Regions from separate parts of the Homo sapiens genome. Here region 2 is linked to region 1. Evidence: fine-mapped expression QTL. A gene starts in region 1. The other region holds a variant in brackets. All regions are shown on one strand. Distances are between the middles of the regions. Region 1 holds the start of TLCD3A (TLC domain containing 3A). Region 2 overlaps MRM3 (mitochondrial rRNA methyltransferase 3).

Evidence for each region. PIP is the estimated chance that this variant, and not a neighbour inherited with it, causes the effect.
Region 2: its variant is fine-mapped to the expression of TLCD3A in thyroid (GTEx, PIP 0.97).

What each region holds. Positions count from the first base shown.
Region 1 is chr17:724,957-741,084 of GRCh38, reverse strand. TLCD3A (TLC domain containing 3A) reads right to left here and starts at 8,489. Exons shown (of 5, transcript NM_024792.3): 1 at 8,316-8,489; 2 at 7,904-7,987; 3 at 3,038-3,239; 4 at 485-580. The coding sequence starts at 8,437. It overlaps LOC124903893 (a long non-coding RNA gene), which reads left to right and starts at 8,705. Exons shown (of 2, transcript XR_007065572.1): 1 at 8,705-8,906. RefSeq lists silencers at 8,073-8,172, 8,243-8,512, 8,533-9,012 and an enhancer at 10,982-11,276.
Region 2 is chr17:782,433-798,560 of GRCh38, reverse strand. It overlaps MRM3 (mitochondrial rRNA methyltransferase 3), which reads right to left. Exons shown (of 4, transcript NM_018146.4): 1 at 15,869-16,128; 2 at 15,234-15,478; 3 at 10,429-10,596; 4 at 6,052-7,027. The coding sequence ends at 6,492. It also overlaps a transcript of GLOD4 not described here. Among named protein-coding and RNA genes, the nearest start is that of MRM3, 8.1 kb to the right of the region's middle. RefSeq lists enhancers at 7,398-7,692, 15,681-16,128, 15,901-16,128. The variant G/A (reference allele first, on the strand shown) is at 5,785.

The DNA of each region.
Region 1 (16,128 bases):
CATTTTCTCCAATAGTGATTTTGAATTTGACCCAGGCCACCCAGCTGACAGGAGTACAGGAACCGTGGATTAAAGTATGTGTGTAACCAGGGAAAAAATAGAATGAGCTGTATCAAACTATCAAACTTAGATCAAACCTACAATTTCACCCCCACTGGCTGAGATGACCAGCTGACCTTTAAGGCTGTTGAAGGATCTCTCATCCCACTCTCCTGGCACTAGGGATTTCTCCACACCCACCATCTCCGAAGGAAAAGCAGAATCCACTCCCTCCCACACTCTTTCTGCCATTTCATTCATGCATGCCTGAATCAGAACCCTCACTCTCTCTGCCATTCATTCATACATGCCTGAATCAGAACCTTCACTCTCTCTGCCATTCATTCATACATGCCTGAATCAGAACCCTCACTCTCTCTGTCATTTCATTCATACATGCCTGAATCAGAACCCTCACACTCTCTGTCATTTCATTCATACATGCCTGAATCAGAACCCTGCCCAGCGACACAAACGGAGTGCTCAGTTCTGCCGTGAAGATGCAGCCGACAAAGAAGTCCCCAAGGTCTCCCCGGAGCCTCTGCGGATGACGAAACGAAAAGGGGAAGTAAGTGGAGGTTAAGAAACCACCAGAAGGAAAATTCCAACGAGGGCTACTGAAAAGGGTAACTGTGACGGGCAAAGGACGCTCAATAGGCAAGCGCAGACTACTGTACCGCTGCTTCCGTGGCAACAGCACTTTGATGGTCCAAGCCCTAGGATCCAGAGGCAAATTCAGACAGGATGACGGCGTCCCACACCAAGCTCTGAATTTTGATGACAGCCGGAAGGAAGGCTGCAAGCCTACTTTTGTGTATCGAACTTAGTCATGCCAAGACACTCAGCCTGTTTGGTTCAACAAAATGTGCCAGGCCCTGTGCTAGATGTTAGGGTCTCAAAGCACCCTAGATGTTCTGGTTCCTAGATGGTAGGTCCCAGACACTTCTTAAAGAATTTAATGCACGTTACCCTTATTTATTTATTTTATTTTTATTTTTTGAGACGGAGTTTTGTTCTTGTTGCCCAGGCTGGAGAGCAATGGCGTGATCTCAGCTCACTGCAACCTCTGCCTCCCGGGTTCAAATGACTCTCCTGCCTCAGGCTCCTGAGTACCTGGAACTACAGATGTACAGCATCACACCCGGCTAATTTTTGTATTTTTAGTAGAGATGGGGTTTCACCATGTTGGCCAGGCTGGTCTCGAACTTCTGACTGGGATTACAGGCATGAGCCACCTCGCCCGGCCTCTTTTTTCAAGAAAGCAGTAAGCATGGTAAAATATCAGCTCTGCCACTTAGTACCACTGAGAGATATAAGAATACTCTTAGAGCCCCAGTTTCTTCATCTACAGCATAAGACTAATAGCTTCTAATATTTAGCAAGCTATGAACTTTTAAATCACATGCCTGGCAGGGCGCGGTGGCTCACGCCTATAATCCCAGCACTTTGGGAGGCTGAGACGGGAGGATCCCTTGAGCCCAGGAGTTCAAGATCAGCCTGGGCCTCATAAGGAGACCCCCATCTCTTTATTTAAAAAATAAAATAAAACTACATGCCGGCCAAGAGCAGTGGCTCACGCCTGTAATCCCAGCACTTTGGGAGGCTGAGGCAGGTGGATCACCTGAGGTCAGGAGTTTGAAATCAGCCTGACCAATATGGTGAAACCCCGTCTCTAATAAAAATATAAAAATTAGCCAGGCATGGTGGCGTGCATCTGTAAACCCAGCTGCTTGGAAGGCTGAGGCAGGAGAATCACTTGAACCCGGGAGGCAGAGGTTGCAGTGAGCCATTGCACTCCAGCCTGGGCAACAAGAGCAAAACGCCATCTCAAAAAAATGAATAACTAAATAAATGAATAATTAAAAAAAAAAACGCATGCCTTCCCCTGGCCAGGCACTCAAGAGTGAGGAATTTCCCCTCAGCTTTCCCATTGCTTTTCTTTGTTGGGTGGGCTTTTATGGGGAAATGGATCTGGGGAGAAAGTAGGAGGCTATTTGCTTTGAGAATCTGTGTTTTGTGACCTAAGAATAATCCACACAGTGCTCTCTGGCACTGTTATGTTGCTTTGTATTATATTTGTATTTTATATTGTTTTTATCTTGTATTGAACTAAGGATAGAACCTCTGACAAACGCTAGGGAATCACAGAGCGCTGGGGGTTTGTTAAAAAGAATGTTGGGGCCGGGTGCAGTGGCTCGCGCCTGTAATCCCAGCACTTTGGGAGGCCTAGGCAGGAGGATCACTTGAGTCCAAGAGTTTGAGACCAGCCTGGGCAACATGGAGAAACTCTACAAAAATTACAGGAATTAGCTGGACGTTGTAGTGTGTGCCTGTGTTCCCAGCTTCCTGGGAAGCAGAGGCAGGAGGATCACTTGAGGCCAGTAGTTTGAGGCTACAGTGAGCTGTGATCCAACAACTGCACTCCACCCGGGGTGACAGAGTGAAACCCTGTCTCAAAAAAGAAAAAGTATGTTGATGTTGATGTTGGTAAGGAGGATCATGAACGTTTCATGTGTAATGGTGTTCCTCCACTATTCACCTGGGGGAGGTGGCTCTGAAGCAGCAGGCACAAGGAGAATGGGTGCCTATGAGTGGCAAAGAAAAGAGGGGCAATCCCGACTCCTAAGTAACGGTCAAGACATCCAGCTCAGGCCGGGCGCAGTGGCTCATGCCTGTAATCCCAGAACTTTGGGAGGCCGAGGCGGGCGGATCACTTGAGTTCAGGAGTTTGAAATCAGCCTGGCCAACATGGCAAAACCCCATCTCTACTAAAAATACAAACATTAGCCGGGCGTGGTGGTGGGCACCTGCAATCCCAGCTACTCAGGAGGCTGAGGCAGGAGAATCGCTTGAACCCGGGAGGCGGAGGTTGCAGTGAGCTGAGATCACACCACTGCACTCCAGCTGGGGCGGCAGAGTGAGACTGTCTCAGAAAAAAAAAAAAAAAAAGACACCCAGCTCAACCCAGCTGCTGGTCTGCTGTCCTGGAAGGCCATACCTGTGCGACTGGCACAAGGACAAAGAGAATGACCGCATGATGTGTGATCATGAGGCGGTTTCGACTTAGGAAGTTTCGAAGAGTGAGGGAGGGCGCACGGTTCTGGTCTCTGGTTCGGCACCATTCACAGAGGTACATGGCGTACGAGTCATAGATCATGTATGGAATCAGAAACCACACATATTCCCGGGCAAGCCAGTGCCTGAAAGAAAGCATATGAATGGCCCGTGAAATCATTGTGGATATCCATTATGAAGGCTCACAGCCAAGCTTGGTGCTTGATCAGCTATTATTATTCCAAATACTTTACAATAAAGATGTTGAAACTGATAAACAGGGAGAGTAGACCACTTGCTCTCAGTTTCAGGGCCAATTCGTGAGTGTCAAAGGCAAAAAGCAGGCATTCACTCAGCCCTGCCTGTTGAAGCAGCTTGCTGTCACTACTTGCCTGACTTAGCTACTAATTTGTAGTAGATGTTCTGGCATTTTGTGATAAAACTGATTTTGATATAGATAGATATACAAATGATTCAACGGCCCCACCAAGAAGCTGGTTTGGAAAGTGTCCCAAATCACAAATCCAACATTTCTAGTTTAACTCCTTAGCTGCTCAACAGTTGGGGGTTTTACTAACTTAAATCCTGGAACCTGTGAGTTTTCTCTTGTCTGCATGCAACCCCACTCTATGGAGTTTCTGGGAGGCAACCCTGGCCATTTTCTTTACAATTCTAGAGCTGGCCGGGTTCGGTGGCTCACACCTGTAATCTCAGCACTTTGGGAGGCTGAGGCGGGTGGATCACTTGAGGTCAGGAGTTCAAGATCAGCCTGGCCAACATGGCGAAACCCCGTCTCTACTAAAAATACAAAAATTAGTCAGATGTGGTGGCGCACACCTGTAGTCCCAGCTACTTGGGAGGCTGAGGCAGGAGAATCACTTGAACCCGGGAGGCGGAGGTTGCAGTGAGCCGATATTGCGCCACTGCACTCCAGCCTGGGCGACAGAGTGAGATTCCATCTAAAAAAAACAAAAACAAAAAAACCCAAAAAGCAATTCTAGAGATAATCTCAATTCCATTAAGAAAAACAGGTCTGGAGGCTGGGCGTGGTGGCTCACACCTGTAATCCCAGCACTTTGGGAGGCCAAGGCAGGTGAATCACAAGGTCAGCAGTTCGATACTCGCCTTATCAACATTGTGAAACCCCGTTTCTACTAAAAATACAAAAATTAGCTGGGCATGGTGGTGTGCACCTGTACTCCCAGCTACTTGGGAGGCTGAGGCAGGAGAATCGATTGAATCTGGGAGGCAGAGGTTGCAGTGAGCCGAGATCGCGCCACTGCACTCCAGCCTGGGCAAAAGAGTGAGACTCCGTCTCAAAAAACACACAAAACACAACAAAAAAAAGCAGGTCTGGAAATGAGCCTGGAGCTCAAGGGCCACATTACAGCGGTTAGGTACCAGGAGAGAGGCTAGGTCAAAAGACAGTTTTCCCATTTACTTATCCAAAGGGGCTGAATCAGTATTTGCTGAATGGAAATCATAGTTGATCACCGTCCTAGAGCAGATTAGAAGGGAAGCCTCTACAATTCATACAATGTGGTTCCCAGTGATAAGCATTCCACAGATGTTTTCTGTGAAGAAACATCTAAATTGAAATCATGTACTATTTGAGGATTCCATTCACATGGTCAGCAAACGTTTGATGCGCATCCACGTATTAGGTAGAAAACCATTTCGTTTTATGGTTCTCAAACTACCTGAACATCAGAATCACCTGCAGTGCTTGTTAAGCGCTCCAGTCCCCAGAGATTCTAAATTGTAAGCCGAGGGCCCTGAAATCTGTATTAACTTTGTCTCTGATTTCGGACGCAGCCAGTCCGCTGAACTGCAACACTGGAAATACAGTCTACGGAGGCGCCATCTGAATTTGTGCTCTTGAGCAACTCCACACTTACCACGGCGTAAATAATGAATAAACAAATAAGGCAAGCAAGTAATGGCAAGTATAACACACTTGTAGGTGAATTCATTAGCCAGGTTCCTTTTTTTTTTTTTTTTTTTTGGTTTTGGTTTTTGAGACAAAATCTTGCTCTGTCGCCCAGGCTGGATGTAGTGGCGCGATCTCAGCTCACTGCAACCTCTGACTCGTGGGTTCAAACGATTCTCCTGCCGCAGCCTCCCGAGTAGCTGGGATTACAGGTACCTGCCGCCACGTCCGGCTATTTTCTTTTTTTTTTTCTTTTTAAGTAGCGATGGGGGTTTCACCATGTTGGCCAGACTGGTCTCAAGCTCCTGACCTCAAGTGATCCGCCCACCTCGGCCTCCCAAAGTGTTGGGATTACAGGCAGGAGCCACCGCACCCGACCTAGCTAGGTTTCTTTTGGCCAAAAAGATGCCATACTTATTCCAATGCCCATCTATGGTCTCAGGTGCTTTCTTCAAGCAATTTCAAGTAAAATACCTATAAACAGCTACTAAAATTTAGCTGAAATATAACTGGCCTCTCCCCTTGAAGGGAACCTAGGGTTTTCATGTTTTCACCAATTCAGAGAAGAGATCTGAAATTGTGACTCATGAGTAGAATCCTCTGAAGATTTATTAGCAAGAGATCTGGATTATAATCTTCACTATCACTAGCCTGTGATTTAACTTTCTTTGTAAAATGAAGATGATAATCCTTGTCTGTCTTACCTGTCAAAACTGCAGTGAAGATTAAATAATTAAATGTGGGAAAGTCGGCCGGGCACGGTGGCTCATGCCTGTAATCCCAGCATTTTGGGAGGCCGAGGCGGATGGATCACCTGAGGTCAGGAGTTCAAGACCAGCCTGGCCAACATGGCTTTACTAAATATACAAAAATTAGCCAGACGTGGTGACACATGCCTGTAACCTCAGCTACTCAGGAGGCTGAGGCAGGAGAATCACTTGAACCTGGGAGGTGGAGGTTGCAGTGAGCCGAGACCTCACCACTGCACTCCAGTCTGAGTGACAGAGTGAGACTCCATCTCAATAAAAAGAAAGGCGGCGGGGAGGGGGAGTCCTTTTAAATGTTAAAAGGTACTATACAGGCTGGGCACGGTGGCTCACACCTATGATCCCTGCACTTTGGGAGGCCTGAGTGGGAGAATGGCTTGAGCCCAGGAGTTCAGACCAGCGTGGGTGACAGAGCCAGACCCTGTCTAAAACAACAACGTACTATCTGAATTAAGTACTTAAATTGAGAAAACCACCTGGAGCTGTGACTTTGTCATTTTAGTGTCTGAATCCTTTAAGAATCTGACTAAATCCTTGGCCCCATACCACCTTCTGCCTATAATTTGGGGGGATTTTTAACTCCTTCTATCTAATCGCATTCTATGTGAAGGCATAAAATGAGAAGGCATATAATAGAAAAATATTCAGTATATAGTATATGAACCCTGAAAGGCCTTTTTTGGCTGGGTGCAGTGGCTCACGCCTATAATCCCAACACTTTGGGAGGCCCAGGCAGGAGGATCGTTGGAGCCCAGGAGTTCAAGACCAGCCTGGGCAACGCAGGGAGACCCCTGTCTCTACCAACAACAACAAAAAAAAGTTAGCCAGGTGTAGTAGTGTGTGCCTGTAGTCCAAGCTTGGGAGGCTAAGGAAGACGGGTGGCTTGAACCCTGGAGTTCAAGACTACAGTCAGCTGTCATTATGCCACTGCACCTCAGCCTGAGGTCTCGACAGGAAAAAAAAAAAGTAAAAAATTTGCTGGGTGTGGTGGCTCATGCCTGTAATCCCAGCACTTTGTGAGGGTGAGGCAGAAAAATGACTTGAGCCCAGGAGTTCAAGACCAGCCTGGGCAACATAGTGAGACCCTGTCTTTAAAAAAAAAAGAAGAAGAAGAAGAAGAAAAATTGTACCCAGCCACACCAATATTAACCTTTGGTGTCTACAATCGATGTCACTTGATCTATCGTAGCATCTACTTATTCATCGCCAATAGCCAGTTTTGTTTTTAAAAAGGCAGAAGAAAAGCACAAAAATCATGACAGCAGGATTGATCCCAGGTAAGACCGCAGGCTAGAGTGAGACGGACAGCTTGCTCAGGCCCCTCGCAGTTCAGTCTCAGCAGGTGAGAAGCAGGACTTGGCAGAGCCCACAGGAGAGCAGGGCCTGGAAAGGCCGTTCAACTTCCTGCACATCCGACTGTGGTCCTTCAACTTGGGAGAAAGTGAGTGTGATTCCAGCAAGACCGGTGGGGAAAAAAAAGGCTTGAAATAATAAAAGCACCACCATTGTCCAGGTCTAACTACTGTACAAAGTCGACTATTCTGGTCTTAATTTATGATTTGTTTCACTGGAACTGCAGATAGGTGCACATTTCCTGACCTGCCTCTGGACTGACCTCTGATAGACGTACAAGTCCGTGTTCTAAGCGCTGGGAACCTCTCAATCACCTTTAGCAAATCTGCAGGAAAAGCAAGAGCGGCGTTTGCGTGGAAGGGGGTGGTGGGTTGGTTCCTTTCCATGGAGGGGGCTCTGCTAACCACACTGGACGTCTGTTAGCCAGTGATGCTCCAGAGTGAGAACCCAGTGAAGCCAACTGCAAGAATCAAGCCACACTCCCAGTCGTAAATGCTTCCACGCTTATCTCTTCCATGAAGGACCTGGATCCCTGGCTCACACCACCTGAAATCAGACTCCGACTCTGTCGTCCTCCCTCATTTCCGTGGACTTTCTCCTAAGCTGGGGGTGCCCGAAGACTCCGGAGAGGAAGAAGGAGCCCATTGTGGTGCCAGCTTTTCCCATTAGTCAGCTTTCTGAGCGCGTGTGCTGCGAGAGCCAGAGCCTGCGAGCTACTGAAATGTGACATTTGCAACAAGGCCCCGGCCCGGGCTCTTACCTGCCGGTGATCACGTCGTCGCAGGAGCGAATGATGACGATCCCCGAGCCGGTGGCCAGCACGGCGTGCACCGAGGAAACCAGCCTAGCGCGGGCGGAGAGAACAGCGCGCGCGCTCAGTCCGGTCCGAGGACCGCAGGGAGCCCGGCCCGGCCCTTCGGCCTGACTCTCCCCAGCCGCAGGCAGATGTGGGGAGCGGGCTCCGGAGGCTCATCGGCCATTCCCGCCCGCCCCGGCCCCGCTCCCGCCAGGGGAGGACGCGGAGGGGCTTCGGAAACTCGGGCCGCCGGGACGCGGAGGGAGCAGCCCCCGGGCTTCCTGCCGCCCCCCTTTTCCGCCCTGGGCCCCGCGGCCGGGTGGGGTGCGGTGGGCAGCGCCCCGGGCCTCGGGGGGCGTCTCGGCGGCGCCGGTACCTGGTGCTGATCATCACGCAGTCGGTGCGGCTCCATCCGGGCTGGGAGCGGCGCAGCGCCCAGGTGCAGAGCGCGAAGAGCCCCGGGAAGAAGAGCGCGCCCCCGGCCAGCGTCAGCAGCATCGGGGCTGCGGGTCCGGCCGCCTCGCTGGCGCCGCGTGGCTGGGTTCGGCTCGGCGCGCCCCGGCCCGGCCGCGCGATTTCAACCCTCCGCCCCCGTCCCCGTCCCGCCTCCGCCCGGCGCTGGCCCCGATCCCGCGGCGCGGCTCTGCGCGTGACCAGGCCCGGCGGCTGCGATAGGGCGGGGCGGGGTCTCTCGCGGTCCCTGGGCCCGGAGGGTTCCCCGGCGTCCCCGGCGGGCGGGTGGGCGGGGGCGGAGGCGGGGACCGAGGCGGCGGCTGTGGCCGGGGCCGCGGCGCGCGCGCGTTCCGAGTCCGCCGCTCCCTCCCGAGCGGCCGCGGGGCCCAGGCGGAGGCGGGAAGGGCCGCGGCTCCCGGCTTCTGTTCCGTCAGCGGACGCGCCCCTCCCCGACCTGCTCTTCTCGCCGGCCCCGGGCGAAGGGGCGGGGTGGGCGCGGGGCCGAGGAAGCCAGGTAGGAACCCCCTCCGGGGTGGGGCGAGGCCCGCGGGGAAGGAAGGAGGGAGGCGGCGTGTGGCCCTGGGTTCGCGGGCCCCGTCCACCAAGCCCTGGTGCTTCTCGGTGGGAGGCCTCAGGATGTGGCCTCTCCCCGCACGGCCGAGATGCTTTTCCCGGTGCCGCCAGCGGCTGCAGCCGCTCCGGGGTGGCCCTCAGGAAGCGTGAGGTCCGGGGGCCTCCAGCAGCCCCTCTCCACCTGCACCAGGAGGCGGACTGTGGAGGCTGCAGGCTCTTACTGCCTCTCGGCTTTGGATCTATCCGGAGACACCATCCAGAGGCGTAGGGACTGTGGTGTTGTTCACAACGTGTCGTTATTTAAAAGTATCGGGGTCGGGCGCGCCTGTAACCCCAGCACTTGGGGAGGCCGAGGCGGGCAGATCACTTGACGTCAGGAGTTCGAGACCAGCCTGACCACCACGGTGAAACCCCGTCTCTACTAAAAATACAAAATTAGCCAGGTGTGGTGGTGCCTGTCTGTAGTCCCAGCTACTCTGGAGGCTGAGGCAGGAGAATCGCTTGAACCTGGGAGGCAGAGGTTGCAGTGAGCCGAGATCACGCCACTGCACTCCAGCCTGGGCCACAGAGCAGGACTCTGTCTCAAAAAACAAACAAACAAACAAACAAAAAAACAGTTATCGGGACAGGCGTCTAAACTTGAATGAATTGGAATACATTTCATTTGTGCCAAGCACCAATCACATGGATGAAGACAGGAATTTCAGTATCATTGGCTTCTGTCCTTTAGGAACTACCAGCTTTATTTTGCTTTGGTCTGTATCTTCCTCAGCTAACAAACGTAGGGGGTGGGAAATACAGTTCATTTATGTTACTACAAATGAAAGGTATGACGGGTCTCCTCAGATCACCGTCATGCAAAATGCTGACCAAAATCCCGTATGAGGACTTCGGAACAGCTGGGCTCGGCTCTCTGGGCCACGATTTGCTGGTCCGTGAAATGAGAGGGAGGCTGGATCACTAGCTCTTTAACGGTCTTCCAGCTCTAGATTCTTATGAGTCTATGACTTTTACAAAGTGGCAGATGATTTCTGTTAGGTGCCAGTTAAATTACTTTAACACGGCAGTTAGTGATGTAGGAACTGGTGTAGAGTGAGCACAGCTTTTGTTTTTTTCAATTTGGATTCATTCATGATGGAGTCTGAAGATGTTTCTCAGGTTTAAAAGATAGTTTTCCTTCAGTGGTAGTATCAGTTACTAGGCTGTGACCTTTTGGAATGAATGTAGCCTCTAACATCTTCCTATATGTGGTTAAGAAAAGGGACTTAGCCAACAGGACGGTGGCAGACAGCCTCAAGAAAAGCCTCAAACTTCGTCCACTTAGGGCAACATCTCTAACTCCCAAATTCACTGCTGACATACTCAGTGAAAGGAGAAAGCCACTTCAGGTTGGTCCCAAGATATCTGACAAATGCGACGCTCTCTTTATTTTCACATTCGCTTGTGGACAAAACCAGCTACCTGTGAACTCTCCATTCTCTCCAGGAAAACGACTCTGTGCAGTCCACTGTCTCTTTCCTAAGCATTTATCACAGTGACCTCCAGCGCCAGTGTTTCCAGAGAGTGACAGGTGGTTACAAGTCCTCCCTGCCTTCCCTCCTTAAAGGGAGCAGCAGCTTGGCAGTGAGTATGCTGGCACCTTTGAGTGGTGGGAACCAGTCTCCCCTACACAAGAAGCTGTAAGGCATCTTTATGAGTTGAAAACAAAACAACCGATGTTTCATGTATAGAAAATAGCAAGTAAAGGCCGGGCGCAGTGGCTCATGCCTGTCATCCCAGCACTTTGGGAGGCCGAGGCGGGCGGATCACGAGGTCAGGAGATCGAAACCATCCTGGCTAACATGGTGAAACCCGGCCTCTACTAAAAATACAAAAAGTTAGCCGGGCGTGGTGGCGGGCGCCTGTAGTCCCAGCTACTCGGGAGGCTGAGGCAGGAGAATGGCATGAACCCGGGAGGCGAAGGTTGCAGTGAGCCAAGATCGTGCCACTGCACTCCATCCTGGGCAACAGAGCAAGACTCTGTCTCAAATAAAAAAAAAAAAAAGAAAAAAGAAAATAGCAAGTAAGATCAGTTTCAACACCATGCTCAGTGAAGTCACCAGACTGTTTATGTTGAATCACCATAAAGCTAACAAGCAGAAACATGAACCTTAGCTTTTCAAGCGATCAAACCCCTGTCGGCAAATGGTAAGGCCAAATGAAAAACACGGGGCCTGGTTTACACAAACTTCCCCTCATCCTTCAAAAGTCTCGAATCAGCTGTTTCCTTCTCTAAGAAGGTTTCCAGGTCTGCCTTTGGGTTTGGGTAACGAGGCTGTTGTTTTCTCATTTGTATGTTTCTCCACCAGACTGTTAGGTCCTAGAAACAAGGACTGTGTCTTTTCATTTTGTACCCCAAGTGAGGCTGGCACATTCTGAGGGTGCAATACATGTTTCATACTTTCCAAAGCTCATACCTGTTGAGTACTTACTGTTTGCTAGGTCCTATGTCAGATGTTTTGTCTACATTGTCTCATTAAATCCTCACAACAGATGTTATTCTCACTCTGTGTGTGTGTGTGTGTGTGTGTGTTTGTGTGTATCAGCAAAATGAGACTCAGACCAGAGCAATTTAAAAATCGCCCCAGGTCACACTGCTGGTGGCGAGCTGGGATTCAAACTCAGTACTTTCTGCCTTTAGTTCCATGTGCCGGATGACTATACTGCCTTCAAGCCTGATAAGCAAGGAGGGAATAATAATCTTTCACAATATAGTTTCTGATGAATACTGTTCCTAATTATTTACTCATAAATTTGTATGGTGAATTGATGGGCTCTGATGCTGCCATGAACAGTATTCTCTGTTTATATGTAACTTTACAAATTTTCAAAGCACTTTCACGTGTAGTAGCTCACCTGGGTCTCAAAATAACCCAGTGAGGTTGGCTAAACCTGTTATTTCCATGTTACACATGAAGAAAGCGAAGTGCAGGATGGGCCGCTGACTCACCACCCTGTGAAGGGACAAGGCTCAGGTTAGAACCTGTTCCAGGGTAATTTCCACTACTCCAGGCTGTGGGGCTGGGTTTCACCAGTTTGTCATTACACTGCTTGTGTGGGTTTCCAGAGTGAAATTTGGGCTACTTAATGCCAACGTAAAACTCACTTACCAAATGTAGACTGTCGCCCCCTTGAACAGAGAATTTATAAAGCTCCCCATTCTAAAGGGCTACGGAGGGATTTTTCTGCCATGAAAGCATGTGGGCCTGCCTTTCCATCTCCTCTCCCCCATTCCTCTGGACCCCACTCGCTATCATTAAGGAATAGGACACAGGGACTCTCCCCATATCTGTTTCCTGGTTTCTTCAGCCTTAAATGGAAAATACCGTATTTACTTGTAAAATACTTTGTGAGTTCTCAAGTGAATGCCATTAAGATATGTGATGTGTGGGCAACTACCCTTGATCGAGGACCTTTTCCTCCTATCTGGGAAAATCATGTACATGAGAAAGAAGTGAGATCACACGTGAAGCGCCTCCACGTAGTGAGCTCCCGAACCAAAAGGGAACTTAGGGGTCTCTGTCCGCTCATCCACTTTAAAAATCCTAACACAGCCTGGGCACAGCAGCTCACAACGGTAATCCCAGCACTTTGGGATCCGTCCAAGGTGGGTGGATCACTTGAGCCCAGGAGTTGGAGACCAGCCTGGACAACATGGCAAAACCCTGTCTCTCAAAAAAAAAAAAAAAAAAAGCCAGATGGGTGGAACCCACCCCAGTAACTGTAGTCCCAGTTACGCAGGAGGCCGAGATGGGAGGACTGCTTGAGCCTGGGAGACAGAGGTTGCAATGATCCCAGATTGTGCCACTGTACTGCAGTCTGGGCGACAGAGCAAGAACCTGTCTCAAATAAATAAATAAATACCCTAACAGAGAAAATGGACATCTGTTCTGAAGTAAAAGTTACTTTGTGTAGACCCATACTTCATTTCCACAGTAGGGACCATTGAAGCAGAGAGAGGGCAGGAAGGACAAAAGGAGAATGAAGAAATAGGAAGAGACATAGAAAGATACGGCACAGGGGGTGGGCACGTGGGCACGGTGGCTCCTGCCTATTATCCCAGCACTTTAGGAGGCCGAGGCGGGAGGATCACTTGAGCCCCGGAGTTGGCTCCTGCCTATTATCCCGGCACTTTAGGAGGCCGAGGCGGGAGGATCACTTGAGCCCAGGAGGTGGCTCCTGCCTATTATCCCGGCACTTTAGGAGGCCGAGGCGGGAGGATCACTTGAGCCCCGGAGTTGGCTCCTGCCTATTATCCCGGCACTTTAGGAGGCCGAGGCGGGAGGATCACTTGAGCCCAGGAGGTGGCTCCTGCCTATTATCCCGGCACTTTAGGAGGCCGAGGCGGGAGGATCACTTGAGCCCCGGAGTTGGCTCCTGCCTATTATCCCGGCACTTTAGGAGGCCGAGGCGGGAGGATCACTTGAGCCCAGGAGGTGGCTCCTGCCTATTATCCCGGCACTTTAGGAGGCCGAGGCGGGAGGATCACTTGAGCCCAGGAGGTGGCTCCTGCCTATTATCCCGGCACTTTAGGAGGCCGAGGCGGGAGGATCACTTGAGCCCCGGAGTTGGCTCCTGCCTATTATCCCAGCACTTTAGGAGGCTGAGGCCGGAGGATTACTCGAGCCCGAGAGTTAGAGACCAGCCTGGGCGACATGGTAAAACAAAAAAATACACTAATTAGCCGGGTGTGGTGGCGTGTGGCTGTAGTCCCAGCTACTCGGGAGGCTGAAGTGGGAAGATTGCTTGAGCCCGGGAGGTTGAGGCTGCAGTGGGCCATCATCACAGCACTGTACTCCAGCCTGGGTAACAGAGTGAGATCCTGTCTCAACACACACACACACACACACACACACACACACACACACACACACACACAACGCCAGTATACACTTTGATACAGGAAGATAGACATAGAGATGAAGATCTAAAGATTGGCACAACAACAGAACACGAGGAAAAGGTCAGACACGGAAAGAAAGGAAGGAGGTGTCCAAAGAGGAGAACAACAGCCTTCTGCGGAACTTCATTCTCTTTGGCAACAAAAGCCACACTGCGTCTGAAGAAATACGGTTCAGAGAATGAGCTGACTTGCTCTTAGGACTTTGAGTGTGGCCAGAAAGAAGTCAATCACCCTGCTCTTCATTTCTCCTTCACTTTGTTTGCCTGATCAGTGTAGCCCTGAGCTGATATGTGTGTGTGCGTTTCTCTGGCAGACCACATGCCCCTGACGGTAGGGGCCGTCTGCCTGGGAGGCAGCCACTGCATAGCGCATTGGAGTTGGGATCCGAGAACCTGAGTTCCAGTCCACGCTCCACCACCTGGAAGCTGTGTGACCTGGAGAAAACACTTTGCCTCCTTCCCCAGTAAAATGGCGGTTCCTGCCTCTACCCTCCAGGATGGCTGGGAGAATTAAATGACATCCTATTTTCAAAACGTTAAACTGTGTGCTCGGCACAGGCAGGGGATTCTTGTTCTTTATACCGGATCCTCAAGGCATAGCCCCCTGCTGTTAAACTTCTCAACAAGCACCTGCTGGATTACAGATTCCCTAGGTGGCCTTAGCCCGACTCCAGACGGCAGCTTCCTTGGTTTTATCTTAAGATTCTTTGCAAGAGCAAACTGTGAGGCCGGGAAGCACAGCCACACCCCAAACCCATGGTTTCTACAAACAGCGACCGCAGCTGCATGCTACACGGGAGACTCCGCTCTGATTCCTGCCGGTAAAAACCGTAATTTACACAAGGAACCGATGATGGAGTGCTGCTTTTATGTATTGCTGTGTATTTTTCAAAGCACTTTCACATACATGTTTCTTTTGCTAAAAATGCAAAATCTGGCTTGTTTGCAGATAGTCACACCTATCTAAAAGCAAACATTTCTAAACTCAGGTTTCAAAAATATTTAAGGGCTGGCTGGGCACAGTGGCTCACTCCTGTAAATCCAGCACCTCGGGAGGCCAAGGTGGGCGGATCGCTTGAGGCCAGGAGTTCCAGACCAGCCTGGGCAACGTGGTGAAATCCCGTCTCTACAAAAAAAAAAAAAAACAAAAAAAAACTTGTTGTGATGTTGCGTGCCCGTAGCCCCAGGCACTTAGGAGGCTGAGGTGCGAGATCACCTCAGGTTGAGCCTGTAGTGAGCTGTGACTGTACCAGGCACTCCAGCCTGAGTGGCAGACGGAGACACTGTGTCAGAAGAACAAAGGTGGGGGTGTGTTCCTCACTCTGTTGCCCGGGCTGGTCTCAAACTCCTGGCCTCAAGCGAGCCTCCCACCTTGCCTCCTCAAATGCTGAGATTACAGGCATGAGCCACCACGCTGGGCTTCAGACCTACTACATTTTGTCTGTGGCAAGCATGTCACACTTGTGAGGAAAACAAGGACAAGGAAAACCGCAGAAATGATTAGCCAGCACTTTGGGAGGCCGAGGCGGGTGGATCACGAGGTCAGGAGATCGAGACCATCCTGGCTAACACGGTGAAACCCTGTCTCTACTAAAAATACAAAAAAATTAGCTGGGTGAGGTGGCGGGCGCCTGTCGTCTCAGCTACTCGGGAGGCTGAGGCAGGAGAATGGTGTGAACCCGGGAGGCAGAGCTTGCAGTGAGCCGAGATCGCGCCGCTGCACTCCAGCCTGGCGGACAGAGAGAGACTCCGCCTCAAAAAAAAAAAAAAGAAAAAAGAAAAAAGAAAAAAAAATGATCCAAAAGAATTTTTCAAATGATACAAACTAGAAATACACAGAAGAAATATAAAAAGGCCCATTGAAAACTTTATAAGTAGGCCGAGCGCGATGCCTGTAATCCCAGTGCTTTCGGAGATGAGGCACGAGGATCACTTGAGACCAGGAATTCGAGACCAGCCTGGGCAGCGTAACAAGACCCTCTACAAAAACATTTAAAAATTATCCAGGTGCGGTAGCATGTGCCTGCAGTCCTGGCTACATGGGAAGCAGAGGTGGGAGGATCCCTTGAGCCCAGGAGTTGGAGGCTTCAGTGAGCCATGATCCTGCCATTGCACTCCAGCCTGGGTGACAGAGCGAGACCCTGTCTCTCAAAATAACACACACACACACAACTTTATCAGTGAATATGGAAAAGACGGAAAATATCCACTGTGCCTAAGTA
Region 2 (16,128 bases), 57 kb before region 1:
TGAGTGTCAGGGATCGATAGTGAGAGGTCGTAAAGGCCACAGATGCAGGCGAAGTGGGTGGCATGATAATCCCCGCCAAGCAGCTCCACCTTCAGATTCTTGTTGCTAATTGGAAGCAGGTTCAGCACCAGCTGTGGCATATTCAAGGGCTTCCTCCGGCAGCCAGGAAAACCAGGCCCTGCAGGTGGAGGCTGGGGGCGGCTGTGAAAACGCCACTCTGTGGTTCCCAGATTTGTGTTTACCACAGTGACTTCCAGATCCCATCCATTCATCCTCACAACAGCGATGAGGGTTTTTTTTTTTTTTTTTTTTTGAGACAGAGTCTCGCTCTGTCGCCCCGGCTAGAGTGCAGTGGCACGATCCCAGCTCACAGGTTCAAGCCATTCTCCTGCCTCAGTCTCCCAAGTAGCTGAGATTACAAGCGACACCACCGCGCCTGACTAATTTTTGTATTTTTAGTAGAGACGGGGTTTCGCCATGTTGGCCAGGCTGGTCTCGAACTCCTGACCTCAGGTGATCTGCCTGCCTTGGCCTCCCACAGTGCTGGGATTCCAGGCGTGCGCCGGCACAGCCAGCCTGTTGTTGTTGTTTTTTTTAACCTGTCTTCCCAACATTAAAAGCCTGTTGAAGAAAAAGGGTATGTTTTCCACATTGAATTCCTAATTGGGAAAAAAAATACTAAAAAAAGAGAAAAGGGTATGTTTGGGACCAGCACATACAGCAGATGAAAACCAGCTTCTTTTCCAGAGCGAGGTGACTTCCTGCTCTTGCTTTTCGCCCCTTGGTACGTCCTTGAAATCAATGGCCATCACTTACCAGAACGCAGGGAGCGAGTGCTGTGTTGGCATCGGCCAAGCTTCAAATAGTAATTTTCAGCCAGACTTTGTTTTTTCCTGTTGCCTAATTAAAGACACTGAAAAGCTGTTCTCCCCTCCTGCTGCCTTGTTCTAGGACAGCAAACTGAATTCAGGAACAATACAGACGGAGCCGGATGTGGCCCAGGAGCAGATGCGCGGGACCTAACACGGTGTTGCCCCGTGCAGCTTAGGGAGGAAATGCAATGTATGAGAGGACACACGTCTGGGAACCCTGCACACTGGGAAGCGTAGTACCAGCAGGGCCCTGAGCGAGGGCACACGCTGTTGACGGTGCCGTTGCCCTGGGCAGGCCCATGTGTTGTGCGCGCTGTGGGTGGCTGTGCACACAGGCCCGCAGGTTCAGGAGTAGCACTGAGCAGGGGGCTGTGAGCTCAAAGGATCTTTCCAGTTTGCCCCGAAGCAGCTGAATGAGAGAAGTGGGCACTTGGCTACACCCCTCACTGCTGCCGCCAGCAGACGAGGGCACACGCCCTGCTTCCTCCAGGCTGCGGCTGCGCAAGGGAAAATTCTTTGGGAACAAATAGCTGTTGACCAGTAGCTTCATTAGTGCTGGGAATATAACATGAGGGCGTTCTAGGTACACCTCGTATGTGAGCGCATGAAGACAGGTAAGTATGCCTACTGCCATTTTTCAAGGCGTGTGTCTCACCCCCTTGGTGCTTTGGGACACTTCCCAAGCCCGAGAATGTGTCAGGAGGTTTGGGTGGAACTGTTGGGTTTCTGTTAAACGATACACAACTCGTGAAAGACTCTGTCCCCAGGTCTGTAGGCCAGTGTGCAATCCAGAGGCAGAGACGGCCTCCAGTCCGGATTCCGGGTGCTTATGCCTCACTCACATGAGGAAGTCACCCACAGGTGCTAGAATGACGACACAGTAGGAGACGTGATCTCAGGGCCAAAAAATCCATCTCTCGAATGTCAGAGGACATGGAGGTCCTACTTGGCAGGCTTGCAGTGAGTACGCCCCGCCCTCGGCATCTCAGAGGAGCAGGGAAGGGAGGCTGAGGCCGGAGCTTGCTGCAGCCGTCGGCTCCTCCCTCCCCAGCCTTGTTCCCTGTTCCCTTCCTGCATTTCTTTTTTTTTTTTTTAAAGACAAGAGTTTCACTTTTGTCACCCAGGCTGGAGTGCAGTGGCACGATCTGACTCACTGCAACCTCCGCCTCCCACATTCAAGCAAGTCTCCTGTCTCAGCCTCCCAAGTAGCTGGGACTACAGGCACACGCCACCACGCCGGGCTAATGTTTGTATTTTTAGTAGAGACAGGGTGTCGCCATGTTTGCCAGGCTGATCTCAAACTCCTGACCTCGTGATCCGCCCGCCTTGGCCTCCCAAAGTGCTGGGATTACAGGCGTGAGCCACCGCACGCGGCCCCCTTCGTGCCTTTTGAGGAAGCAGCAGCCTTGGTCATGGCCCATAAGAACTCAGACTTCAACTGAAAAAAGTGGCTCTTCCCTACACAACAGTCCAGGAAGCTGGATATTGGGAGTGTGGTGAGACGAGAACTGACCCATCCATAAGCTATTCTGGATTCTCTGTCACTCTCAGCCGTGGAGCATCAAGCAGGCTTCCTGAAGCTTCGGGAGGACCTGGCTTCAGCTGCTGTCTCAGCTGCTCGAATGTAACATGGTTCCGTAGTTGAGACTTCAGTCATCCTGAGCAATAAACCAGCTCATCCACTAACTTGGCTCCTAGCTTATTACATGTGTGCACTCCCTGCACTGATGAAAACAGGAAACATGGCGGGCGCAGGGGCTCACGCCTGGCATCCCAGCACTTTCGAGGCTGAAGCAGGAGGATAGCTTGAGGCCGGGAGTTCAAGACTAGCCTAGGCAACGTGGCAAAACCCCATCTAAAAAAAAAAAAAGAAAACAGAGGAAACACAATCATGGAATTTTTAAGGTGGCAACATGTTTTCTTAAAAACAGGTGAGCCTGTCAGCTCTGCTCCTGAGGGAGAGGTAGCTTGGTCAAGAGGGCAGCCCCAGGCCCTGCAGTACAGCTGGTGATTTTCAGCCCAGAGCCCTGGAACCTTGGATGGGGAGTGTGTGTGAGGGCTGTGCGTGGTAGAATGGCAAAAGTGGGGCTAAGTGTGGCCCAGCGTGGCTGGTGCGGACATCTGGGGTTGCTGTCAACCCCGGGGCAAGCAGCGGAAGGTCCCAGGTGAACGGCAGGTCCCCAGAGGTCTGTTTCTCCTCTGGACCTTAATGACCAGGCTCCCAGCCAGGAGCCAGCGGCTGGGGCGAGGGGAGAGTGATTTCAACGCTCTCTGCCCCGAAGCAGGAACCGAAGGGCCAGCCGGTGGGCACCCAGCGTGAGCTCCAGGCACATCTGGACACCTATGCTTTGCCCAGAGTTGCTTTTCTCAGAGGCTGCAGTCACAGGGAAAAGTTGTGACGGTCTTTCCTGCTATTTCCCGTTCGTCCTCTTTCGCCTCCGTTTTTGTTCCCATGTCTTCCTGTACTCCGGGTTCTTTCTTCTGAGGTGGTCTGGGACAATCTGGATGGGTCTCCGGCTTTAACACCCCGGAGCACAGACAGCTTGCAAAATGCTCTCTGGTGGAGGGAGACTTCACTCCATCCTCTTTTCCTCCCTTTTCAACGATTTAAATCCAGGAAAAAATCGCAGCCCCGCCCTTCAGCACTGGGGTGGTTTTGGAGGTGTCGCCTGCCACCTCCTGGCAGACGCCACTGTGACAGCTACGCCACCACACAAAGGCGCGGGAGCGTGGCCAACATCCTGACAATGTTTGTCTCTCGGCCAAGCAGTGTTTTCCTTGTCAAATGTGGCTCGTTTTTTATTCCTGTTTACTGGGGAAATGGTGACAGAACAAATGTCAGACTCAAAACTGAGAATTCAAGGTAGTGATTTTCCAGAATCACTCAGCAAATAACAACCATCTGTTCCCCTGTATTCACTGAAGAAAGGACAATTTGCCTCCCTCCTGCACCCTCCCTCGTCCCTACTAAATTATACCCATGAATATATAAAGTGAACTGAAGGCACCGTGGCATATAAGCCACGGACTCTAAAGCAAAGGGATGTAAATTTCTTTTCCCTCTCACACCCAGGATAAAATGGGCTTAGAATTACTTGTCAGTGTTGGCCGGGCACTGTGGCTCACGCCTGTAATCCCAGCACTTTGGGAGGCCGAGGCGGGTGGATCACGAGGTCAGGAGATCAAGACCATCCTGGCTAACATGGTGAAACCCCGTCTCTACTAAAAATACAAAAAATTAGCCGGGCGCAGTGGCTCACGCCTGTAATCCCAGCACTTTGGGAGGCCAAGGCGGCGGATCACAAGGTCAGGAGATCGAGACCGTCCTGGCTAACACGGTGAAATCCTTTCTTCACTAAAAAAACACACAAAATTAGCCAGGCTTGGTGGCAGGTGCTACTCGGGAGGCTGAGGCAGGAGAATGGCGGGAACCCGGGAGGCAGAGCTTGCAGTGAGCCGAGATCGCGCCACTGCACTCCAGCCTGGGCGACAGAGTGAGATTCCGTCTCAAAAAAAAAAAAAAAAATTACTTTCCAGTGTTTACATTGCTTTTTCTAAACAAGGACAAGGTAATACATGGTTTATTCTTTCACTGTTATTTTGTAACGAGTCAGTGGGAGTATAACCCGGGGAACAAATCCCACGAGATTGGTTTTAGGCTGGAAAGATGTGAGCTTCCTTTTCGTGACTCCTGCTGCTTGAGCACTGTCCTGAGGTGTCTGGGGAGACTGGAGTGGGATGGATTTGCATTCTCCAGGCCGCCTTTCCGCCTGTCCTCTCTGCACCAGCCTTTGGGAGCAGTGTTGGGGGGACACTTGCATTGCCCATTCATGTGGAGCTCTGGGCAGGCCCAGACCACAGTGGGGCTCCAGAGCAGATGTTCAAATATTCAGATGTCAGCCTGGGAGGACACTGTCCCTGCAAACACCCCTCCCCCAGGGGAGAGCAATCCCAACCTGCCCCTTGGCACGTGAATCATGCTTGGTCATTTGGTTTTACTAGGAAGAGGGAGTTTGACTAGGAAGTTGGGGGAGTAGAAGAGAAAGAAGGTTTCTCCTGGGCACACCAGCAACACACTTGACCTCCCTGGAGTGAGCAGTGTCCAAACCATTACGGGAGCCGCTGGGCAGAGGGGTGTGGGGAAACGCTTCCTGTGTTGTCTTCAACTCCAACTCTGTGTGGCTGCAAAAGCAGTGCTTTTTTTTTTTTTTTTGAGACGGAGTCTCGCTCTGTCGCCCAGGCTGGCGTGCAGTGGCGCGATCTCGGCTCACTGCAAGCTCCGCCTCCCGGGTTCACGCCATTCTCCTGCCTCAGCCTCCCGAGTAGCACCTGCCACCACGCCTGGCTAATTTTGTGTATTTTTTTAGTGAAGACAGGATTTCACCGTGTTAGCCAGGACGGTCTCGATCTCCTGACCTTGTGATCCGCCGCCTTGGCCTCCCAAAGTGCTGGGATTACAGGCGTGAGCCACTGCGCCCGGCCTCCCGAGGTGCTGGGATTACAGGCGTGAGCCACTGCGCCCGGCCTCCCGAGGTGCTGGGATTACAGGCGTGAGCCACCGCACCTGGCCAGCAGTGCTTAAGAGTCCCATATTCCACCCACCCACCCCATCCCCACAGTTCCTTATAGATACATTGATGACCATCAGCACTTGCCCTGACACCCTGGCTACATCCTGGTTTGGCCGCTAGTAGGTAAAGATCCAGCTTGCCCTGGGCCCTGGAGGGGCTGAGAGAACAGAAGGGTCCTGCCGCTGTATTGTGGGCGTTCATTCTCAGAACCTTGGCCTCTAAACATTGGGGGATGAGACGTAAGTAGGACTAACACAGGGAACCAGGAAACAGTGACACTTTCCTGACACATGCAGGGTGAGGCTGCCGATTTTGAAATTCAGTTTTCCGCATAGACTTCC[G/A]TCTCTGCAAAGTCCTCAAAAAGGTATCTGCAGAGGTGCCAAGAAGGTCTGACATGGCCTGTTGAATTAAGCCGTTTCTATGGATACATAAACAGTGGCTCAGTGAAGCCCTGAACAATCTCAAAGACAGACCATCTGAGCCCAGAGCAGAGCTGCTGGATGCCATGAGCGTAGCCCTCAGCTTCCTGGTGTTCCCTTAGCCACGTCCTCGTTACCAGGCCAAACGTGACAGGTACTGTGACACACCAACGACACAAAACAACTTACTAACGTAATCTGCTGCTCATAGTTTATTTTCCACCAACCAGTGATCAGCTGTGAGTGATGTGGCTGTGACCTATAGCTGGTGCTTGGCGATTACAAACACCCACCAGCTGGTGGAGCAGGCGCCTCCCTGCCAGGATGATGCTTCAGGAACTTTCTGGGCACAAAGTGCTTCTTGGTGGACAATTTTTAAAAACACACAGAGCCACGTGGGTCACCTATTGTCACCAAGAGAAAAAAGAACCTCAAAATCAGTGACGCGACAGGAAGAATTCGGACCTGTTCTTTCTGAGGAAGTTCTTATTTTTCCTGTAACTGTATGACGGCATCACACCTTCCTCCTGAACGTGGGGGCCATAGTCACTGACTCCGCCAGCCTCCCACCAGTGTGCTGGTGTAGGAGGAGCTGCAGACGTCCTCAAGCAGAAGTCACTTCTGCGTCCTCAGTGGTAACTCCTGTCCCTGCTCAAGTCCTCCGCCCTCCCCCGCAGCTGTCTTTTCCCTTCGAAAAGCAGGATGCTTGCCGCCATGGCCGAGTTGAGGCTGTCCACACCAGGCACAACGGGGATCAGCAGCCTCTTGCCACCAGTGCTCTCGGCCAGCTGCAGGGACTCCAGGCTCACGCCGTAGGTCTCCCCGCCAATCACCACAGCTGCCGGCGCCTCTGTCCAGTCCGAGTCGTAACTCTGAACCTCAACATGAGGCAGCCAATCTTGACTGGCTCCGGTTTCTACATCTTCCTCTTCCTCATACTTGTGAAACTTCATCACTCGTTGATCACACACCCAGCCATGGTCACTAGCTTTATTAGACATCTCAGCCTGGGCATAAAGGCCACAGTTGTCAGCCACATAGACCCGAGTGTCAGGGGGCAGGTAATTGGGCACGGTTTCCCATTCCAGATTATTGATAATGGGCATCCGGAAATGTGCGCCCATACCCGCCCGGAGCACTTTGGGCTCCCAGGCATCCACACAGCCTGGAAAATAAAAAGGAAACAATCAAGATGTTACAAATCTTCCCAGACCAGGGGACTGTGGAGTAAGTCTGATCAATTTTGGATCAGGAGATAAACCAGTTCTTCTATGATAGCTTTCTTGAGGGATGGGACCTTCTGCCTCTCTCTGACAGCATCCAGCACAGCGACTATAGGAGTCACTCCTGCTAGTGCTGAAGATATTTTATGCATCCCTTCAACATCTCCCATTCACACGTGCCAGACACTGCGCAGAAGATGCAAAGATAATGAAAGTCCCCAACCCCAAGGAACGCACAGTGTAGTGGGGTGGTATTAAACAGATGGCTACAGTATCAGTAACTGATGTAAAAGAAGCACCCACACAGTCATAGAAAACCCACGGACAAAGCAGGGCGATGAGGAAAACCATCTAAAAGACCACCACACTGAGATAAAGGCCCAGGCAGAGGACAGAGCTAGGAGAGGAAGCGGGAGAGTGGCGCAGCCTAAGGACTGCAAGCATGGTGAGCCGGCCAATCAGCGGTGGCGCTGTGGCGGCACAGGAGGTGAGCCAGCCAATCAGCCGGTGGGGGTGTGGTGGCACAGTTGAGGTGGCCAATCAGCGGGTGGGGGGGGGGTGTGGTGGCACAGGAGGTGAGCTGGCCAATCAGCGGGTGGGGGTGTGGTGGCACAGGTGAGCCTGCCAATCACTGGTGGTGCTGTGGCGGCACAGGGGGTGAGCCGGCCAATCAGCGGTGGCGCTGTGGCGGCACAGGAGGTGAGCCAGCCAATCAGCCGGTGGGGGTGTGGTGGCACAGTTGAGGTGGCCAATCAGCGGGTGGGGGGGTGTGGTGGCACAGGAGGTGAGCTGGCCAATCAGCGGGTGGGGGTGTGGTGGCACAGGTGAGCCTGCCAATCACTGGTGGTGCTGTGGCGGCACAGGGGGTGAGCCGGCCAATCAGCGGTGGCGCTGTGGCGGCACAGGAGGTGAGCCAGCCAATCAGCGGGTGGGGGTGTGGTGGCACAGGCAGTGAGCCGGTCAATCAGCGCTGGGGCTGTAGTGGCACAGGAGGTGGGAGGTGGGCAGGCCAACACGGAGGAGGCCTCCTATGGGAAGCTGAGGAGTTTGGCATTTTATCAGAAGACAGTATCATGCCATTGAGGGATCTTAAGCAAAGCAGTGACAGAATCAGATCTATAGTTTCATCAAGACCCATTGGGCTTCAACGTTCAGTCTGCACCGGAGCAGGGAACACTCTAGAGATGAGGCAATGAGGCAAGAGGCAACCCCGGCAGCAGCCTGCGACGCCTGGCCTTTCCCAGGGGCGGCTCCTCACCACGGGCGGGCTGGGAGAGTGGCCGAGGGTGGGGCCTCGCAGTGACTGCATGGCCTCCCACCCTCCCCCGCACAGCTTGTTAGCGCAAGTCTTCTCCTGACGAGTTATTTTAGAAGTTCATTTGTCAAACCTCGGGATAGACGAACCAGGCAAACCAGATTTTAAACGGAGAATAAGACACAGAGGATGTAACAGCGCCTGCACCCCCAGCCACGGGCTTTCCCTCTCCCTGCAGGAAACCAGAGATAGGCCCAGGCGTGTGAGAGGAGCGGCCGAGGCTGACCCCTCTGCCTGGAGGGGAGAAGGGAAAGGGGAAAGGCGAGACTCCTCCCGTCATCCTCATGTCCTGGATACTGGGCACCACACCAAGTATTTCCTACCTTCTTTCCCTATTTCTTACACCCCAGCCATCAGTATCAATGTGAAAACCACAATGCTTGGATTATTTAGATTTATTTCCAAATCCCACAACAGCTATCAGAGCACTAAATAATGGGGCGAGTAAGCGGGTACTGATCACAGAACCCCAGCACGTAGCTCTCACACTGGCACAGAAACGTATTCTAGCAAGGCGTGACTGAGAAAGAGCTGCGAGCAGCAATTTAGGCAAGTCTCAACAACGGGTGCCACTATTAGTTTACTTTTAATGGTGGCTGGGGTGTTTCTGATGAATGGTACTCTCTGTCCCCTCCACCTCCCAAGGTGTAAGAGACATTTTAGGCGTGCTCCAACTGTGAGGAAAGTCTGTTTAGAGCCAAGCCTATTAATCCCTATTTCTGATGAGAAGAGACAGAAATGTAATGAGGCGAATTTGTGTGCGGGGCATGTGACCCACGCTGAGGCTAAGGGAATCTAAGGGAAACGGATCACAATGACATTAGGATTCAGAGCTGCTGACGTCATTCCTTTCATAGGATTCAGAAGTCAAGACTCAGGAGTGGCTCATATACTCAGCAATTTGGGAACTCAATATCATTACATAAAGAACCAGAAACCAAGTGTTAAAATTGGCATCTATTTCTTTTCCATAATCGATGTGAAGTTCTCTAACAGCCTAGCAGGTTTCATGATAATTTTAAAAGATAATAAACATGGCTGGGTATGGCGGCTAATGCCTATAATCTCAGCACTTTGACAGGCCGAGGCAGGAGGATCCCTTGAGCTTAGGAGTTCCAGATTAGCCTGGGCAACACAGCAAGACCCCGTCTCTACAAAAAACATAATTTTTAAAAAAGAGAATCAACATTGACTGAATTACTCGTGAGGCAGGTAAGGTATGAAGTAACTTCTGTGCATCATCTCACTTAATCCTCACAGTGACCAGGGAGATTCTGTTATTCCTCCCAGTTCACCAACGAGGAAGCTGACACTTCAGGGACTACTGCTCAGGGACCACAGCTAGTGAAGGCAGACCCATCCAAAGCCGTGTCTGCCTGCCCAGAGCCCTAGCTCACCTAACAATGGTCGACTTGGCTGGGCGTGGTTATTCATGCCTGTCATTCCAGCTACTGCTCAGGGACCACAGCTAGTGAAGGCAGACCCAAGATCCAATGCATGTCTGCCTGCCCAGAGCCATAGCTCACCTAACAGTGATTGACTTGGCTGGGCATAGTTGTTCATGCCTATAATTCCAGCACTTTGGGAGACTGAGGCAGGAGGACTGCTTGAGTCAGAGCCAGTTCAACACCAGCCTGGGCAACATAGTGAGACCCCATCTCTTTAATAAAAAAAAAAAAAAAAAAAAAGACCAGACCAACTAATCCACCTGGTTTATTATTTTTTTGAGAGGGAGTCTCACTCTGTCGCCCAGGCTGGAGTGCAGTGATGAGCTCACTTGACATGTGATGAGCTTTGACATCCCAGGCTCAAGCAATCCTCCCACCTCAGCCTCCCAAGTTGCTGGGACTGAGTACAGGCACACCCCACCACACCCAGCTAATTGTAGTTTTTTTTGTAGAGATGAGGTCTCACTATGTTGCCCAGGATGGTCCTGAACTCCTGGGCTCAAGTGACCCTCCTGCCTCGGCCTCCCAAAGGGCTGGATTACGAGTGTGAGCCACTATGCCTGGCCTTTGATGTCCTTACCTTTGGTGAGTAACACTTTGCTGCAGCCTGCCCCAGCTGCAGATCTCAGAATTGTCCCCAGGTTCCCAGGGTCACGGAGATTGTCACAAATCAATAATAAAGGCAGTGAATGCTGAAGCTGAGTCTTTGGATATGTCATCTTAACATGGTCAGGCTTGGCAAAAATCCCTGAGGAAACAAAACAGGTGGTTTACTTGCCTGGTGTGGGCACGGGGAATAGTCTGACTTTTCATTTACTTATCAATCTTGATATGGTCTTAGTTACATAAAAATACAGGAATACAGGCCAGGTGTACTGGCTCATGCCTGTAATCCCAACACTTCGGGAGGCCAAGGCGGGTGGATCACCTGAGGTCAGGAGTCCGAGACCAGCCTGGCCAACGTGGCAAAACCTCGTCTCTACTAAAAACACAAAGATTAGCCAGGCGTGGTGGCGCATGCCTCTAGTCCCAGCTACCTGGGAGGCTGAGGCAGGAGAATCGCTTGAATCTGGGAGGTGGAGGTTGTGGTGAGCCAAGATCACGCCACTGCACTCCAGCCTGGGCGACACAGTGAGACTCCCTCTCAAAAAGAAAAAAAAGGAAAAAAAAAACCACGAATACATTCTGATTGGCAAAATTCAAACAACATAAAATTCTACCAGTACCACTCTCCTCCCCCTCAACTGTTCTGTTTTGGAGTGTATCCTTTTAGAACTTGTTCTATGCATCTACCTATATATATGCACACCTGTCCATATGTAAATGTGTTTTACATTCCGTGTCATACTCTGTATTATTCTGTAATCGACTTATTTACGCAACAATATATCTTGAACTTACCATGTCAATATGTTTGAAGCTACTTTTTTCCTTTAACTGCTGTAGGCTATTTTTTTTTGAGACAGAGTCCCACTCTCTCACTCTGTTGCCCAGGCTGGAGTACAATGGTGTAATGCTGGCTCACTGCAACCTCTGCCTCCCGGGTTTAAGCAATTCTCCTGCCTCTCAGCCTCCCAAGTAGCTGGGATTACAGGCACCCGCAACCACACCCGGCTAATTTTTTGTATTTTTAATAGAGACGGGATTTTGCCATGTTGGCCAGGCTGGTCTCGAACTCCTGACCTCAGGTGATCCACCCTCCTCGGCCTCCCAAAGTGCTGGGATTACAGTTGTGAGCCACCATGCCCAGCCTCTATTTTGTAGTATGAATGTACCACAGTTCATTTAGCTCTTCCCCTATGGACTGTTAAATTATTTGAATTTTTCCCTGTTACAAATGCTGCTGCAATGGGTATCCCTGTAGGACTGTCTGTCCATGTGTCTAAAAATTTCTCTAGCATAAATACCTGTGAGTGAAATGGACAAATGATGTGCGTGCACTATTAACGTTCACACAGGCTCTTTCAGTTTATTCACATCAGGAACTCATAAATACCTGTTTTCGGCTGGGCGCAGTGGCTCATGCCTATAATCCCAGCACTTTGGGAGGCTGAGGTGGGCGGATCACAAGGTCAGGAGTTTGAGACCAGCCTGAACAACATGGTGAAACCCCGTCTCTAATAAAAATACAAAAATTAGGCCAGGCACGGTAGCTCATGCCTGTAATCCCAGCATGTTGGGAGGCTGAGGTGGGCGGATCATGAGGTTAGGAGATCAAGATCATCCTGGCTAATACGGTGAAACCCTGTCTCTACTAAAAATAACAAAAAAATTAGCCGGGCGTGGTGACGGGCGCCTGTAGTCCCAGCTACTCGGGAGGCTGAGGCAGGAGAATGGTGTGAACCCGGGAGGCGGACCTTGCAATGAGCGGAGATCACGCCACTACACTCCCGCCTGGGCGACAGATCGAGACTTCGTCTCAAACAAACAAACAAAAAACAAAAATTAGCCAGGCATGGTGGCGCATGCCTGTAATCCCAGCTACTCAGGAGGCTGAGGCAAGAGAATTGCTTGAACCCAGGAGGTGGAGGTTGCAGTGAGGCAAGATCGCGCCACTGCATTCCGGCCTGGGCAACAGAGACACTATCTCAAAAACAAAAAACAAAACAAAACAAAACCTGTTTTCCAGCTCAAACCCTTCTTAAAAGCGGGTCTATCATTTGTTTCCATTTGTCCCAATGTGATAGAAAAAACAGCATGCCATTATTTTAACTTGCCTTTTCTCTGATTACTAGAGAAGCTAAACACCTTACTGACTGACTGCGATCTTCTTCAGTGAATTCCTGTGCTCCTTTAACTGTCTTGTTTCTACAACCTGTGCCCATCTTCCTACCAGGTAGGCTTTTAAAAAATAGTTTATAGGCTTAAATATTTAAAAAACAATTATTAGCCTGCTATACTGATTTATCTTTCCTTTATCACTCATTTTAAAATTCAAACTACATTCCTAGGAAAAAGAATATGAATTTCAAAACTTGAATGCATCAAAGTAACAACCCCTTTTTCAAATACGCTGGCTCAGAAGCACTGTCTTAGGGACATACTCTGCAAAACGAAGGGGCTGTAGGTGCAGTGAACGCTTGAGTCACTTCCAAGGCCTCACGCTGGAGGTCCAGAAGCCTGGGAGCTTTAGAATGGGTACAGCCACTTACTGGCGACCGCTCTGTCCTCAGTCTAATACAAAGGAGTAAAATGGGGTCTGGGACTATCTGGGAAAATGAAAACCCTAAGTGGCCTTCTTAGTGGAAAATTCTCTCCTTATTTAATGATCTCTACATGATAAAATTATATATACATTATATAATAATCTACATTATATAATCTCTACATTATTAATCTCTAAAGTTTTATGGAAAGAATTTATGGGAAAAGAGAAAAATTGGAAAAAGGCTAATAACAATATTAAAAATGGCTTTGAGTACATGAAATTGCTGTGGTATAGATGAAGTTATTCACATGGGTGTATCACATATCCACAAGTTTCTTTTTGAATCACCATGTTTACTGGTAGAGGTGATAATGATAACCTTTTAGTAAGCTTTTTTTTTTAAGCCAAGCACTACCCTAAACTCTTTATGTATAATTATCAAATATTCAATCCCTTTGTAGTCTGCTCCCAAGGGACTGTACAGTTTTTTTGAATCTTACTAGTATTTTGTCGTATATGATTGCTACAATAAATGGGCTACTGACTGAAGTCAGGAGATGAATGAAATAGTACTTGTACTGAAACATGATACAATCAAAGATTTAGGATTCTTTCTAAAAGATGGTGCAGGTAAAAAGCCTATCCACCACTGAAGGCAATGGAAGGGTATTAGGCGTCTGTGTGCTGTGAGAGAGCCTCCACTTCGGAGTCACAGATGGCCAAAAGCCATTCAGTAGGGCTGAGGACCTTAGAAGTCCTTTACTTCTACTTGGATGTCTGTGGTGATGAGAACCCACTATACGGAGGCCCTACTTATGTCGCTGGATTCTGGGGAGTGTCTGTCTAAAGCCTGACAGGTGCTGCCAGTTCCTATCCATTTCTCCCTTATTCCCTGCCCTCAAATCTAAAATATAGTAACATAAGGATAAGCCAGGAAATGATGAAAGCAGGTATGATGATGAAGTTCAAGATGGGTTGGCCACTGTAAGCACACCTGCCCCAAGTGACAAGCACAAGTTCAAGATGGGCTGGCCACTGTGAGCACACCTGCCCCAAGTGACAAGCACAAGTTCAAGATGGGCTGGCCACTGTGAGCACACCTGCCCCAAGTGACAAGCACGGTAAAAATGAATAACACTTTCACTGAAGCATGGCGTGTGGATTAGAGGGCTGTAGCTAGTGAGAATATGGTTACTTAGCATGAGTAATTCTAGGTACTTTAGTAATCCAAGTCCCCATCCTAGGATCTAAGAGCTCTGAGTGCAGAGGCACAGATCCCTGTGACTCACTGGGTTACAGAGACAAGAGATGGTTCCCCAGAATCTCCTCTCTCAGCAGTTCAAGGATTCAGTTTTCATATCTTAAAACTCCCATGTCAAAAACGTATGAAAAACTTATCTTCTCATATTTAGACCAAAGACTTTGTAACTGCTAATCAACATCGGAGTTACATAAGGTTAAGTCAGATTCAGCCAAATGAAGGAACAGACTAGAAGACAAGGTTCTCTGTTTATTGGGCTAAACGGGGCAGTAAATTGTGGCTTGTACCTCGCTTCTTAGATCTGCTTCTGGAATAAGCAGTTTATTGACAGTTATCACCACATTGGCAGAGGTTTTGCAAAAATGAAGGGCTCAATCTTTCAGTAAACGCTTTCTTAATTTTTAATCTGACATAGAAAGTTGAAGAAGTAATCTAAAAAATAGAAGGTTTGAGGAATAGTGGTTCTTCCTAGAGACCATAAAGAGCCACAACACAAATGATAGTGAAAAACGGGTTTCAATTTCCATTGAAAATACTCTAAGATACACAGGTTTGAGAATTATATTTTTCTAATTGTAACATTTTGAATTTCATTTCAATGCTGCTGTCCTAAGACAAGTATGAGAAATTAATCCTAGGTCTCCACACCTTAAGATACACTGTGTAAGGCCAGGCATGGTGGCTCACGCCTGTAATCCCAGCACTTTGGGAGGCCGAGGCAGGAGGATCACCTGAGGTCACAAGTTCGACGTCAGCCTGGCCAACATGGTGAAACCCCACCTCTACTAAAAATACAAAAATCACCCGGGCATGGTGGCAGACGCCTGTAATCCCAGCTACTGCGGAGGCTGAGGCAAGAGAATCCCTTGAACCCGAGAGGCGGAGGTTGCAGTGGGCCGAGATCGCGCCATTGCACTCCAGCCTGGGTGACAGAACAAGACAAAAAAAAAAAAAGATACACTGGGTAATCACTAACCCATTATTCCTTGTGGCGTTACGAGGTCGGACCAATCCTTGATATCCTCAAATTTCACCTTAATGAGGCTGACACCTTTCAGCTTATCGACTGGCAACTCCTTTAGGTATTCTAGACGGCTAAAGAAGAACATTTTTGGCACAGCTCCAGCCTTGAGAGCGTCTGAAATGAGCCTGCGACCTTCCAGCAGGATCTTCCCTTGTTTTTCCCGAAATGGCCTGGACTTTACTATTGTCATTACACTGCTGTAGATGGAAATAAAAAAAAAAAACAGGTAACTATCAACATCCTTGTTACTGAGACACGCTTAGTTGTAACAGAAATAAAGAGCTACGGAGAGGGCCGGGCGCGGTGGCTCACGCCTGTAATCCCAGCACATTGGGAGGCCGAGGCGGGCGGATCACCTGAGGTCAGGAGTTCCAGATCAGCCTGGCTAACATGGTGAAACAAAAACAACAACAAAGAGCTAAGGAGAAACAGAAGCTAATTCCAAAGACGCTTATTCGGCCCTCTGTGCATAATACAAAAACCAGCGGGCTGTACTGGAAGAAGTCCTCCATCGGAAGGAGGTTAAGGTTCCGCTGTGCGACGGGAAGGGAAACGAGAACATTCGACAGGCTCAAGAACCACATCACCTCAGCCTCCTGTCCCCGGGATAAGCTTTATCGTAGCGAAGCCCAGACTCTTCCCAGGTGCTGGGAGCGCGGGATGCGGACTCCTCGAGCGGTTGTTTCTCTCGTTGCTCCTGGGCACTGGCCTCAGATGGTGCCTTGCGGGGCTGCTTCCCAGGAGCGCGCTTCTGTTCCACCACCTCTCCGGAAGGAAACACCACTTTCACTGGGCTCCGCCGCAGCGCCCGGACCCAGCGCCTCGCGTCAAGGTCCCAAGCCTGGAC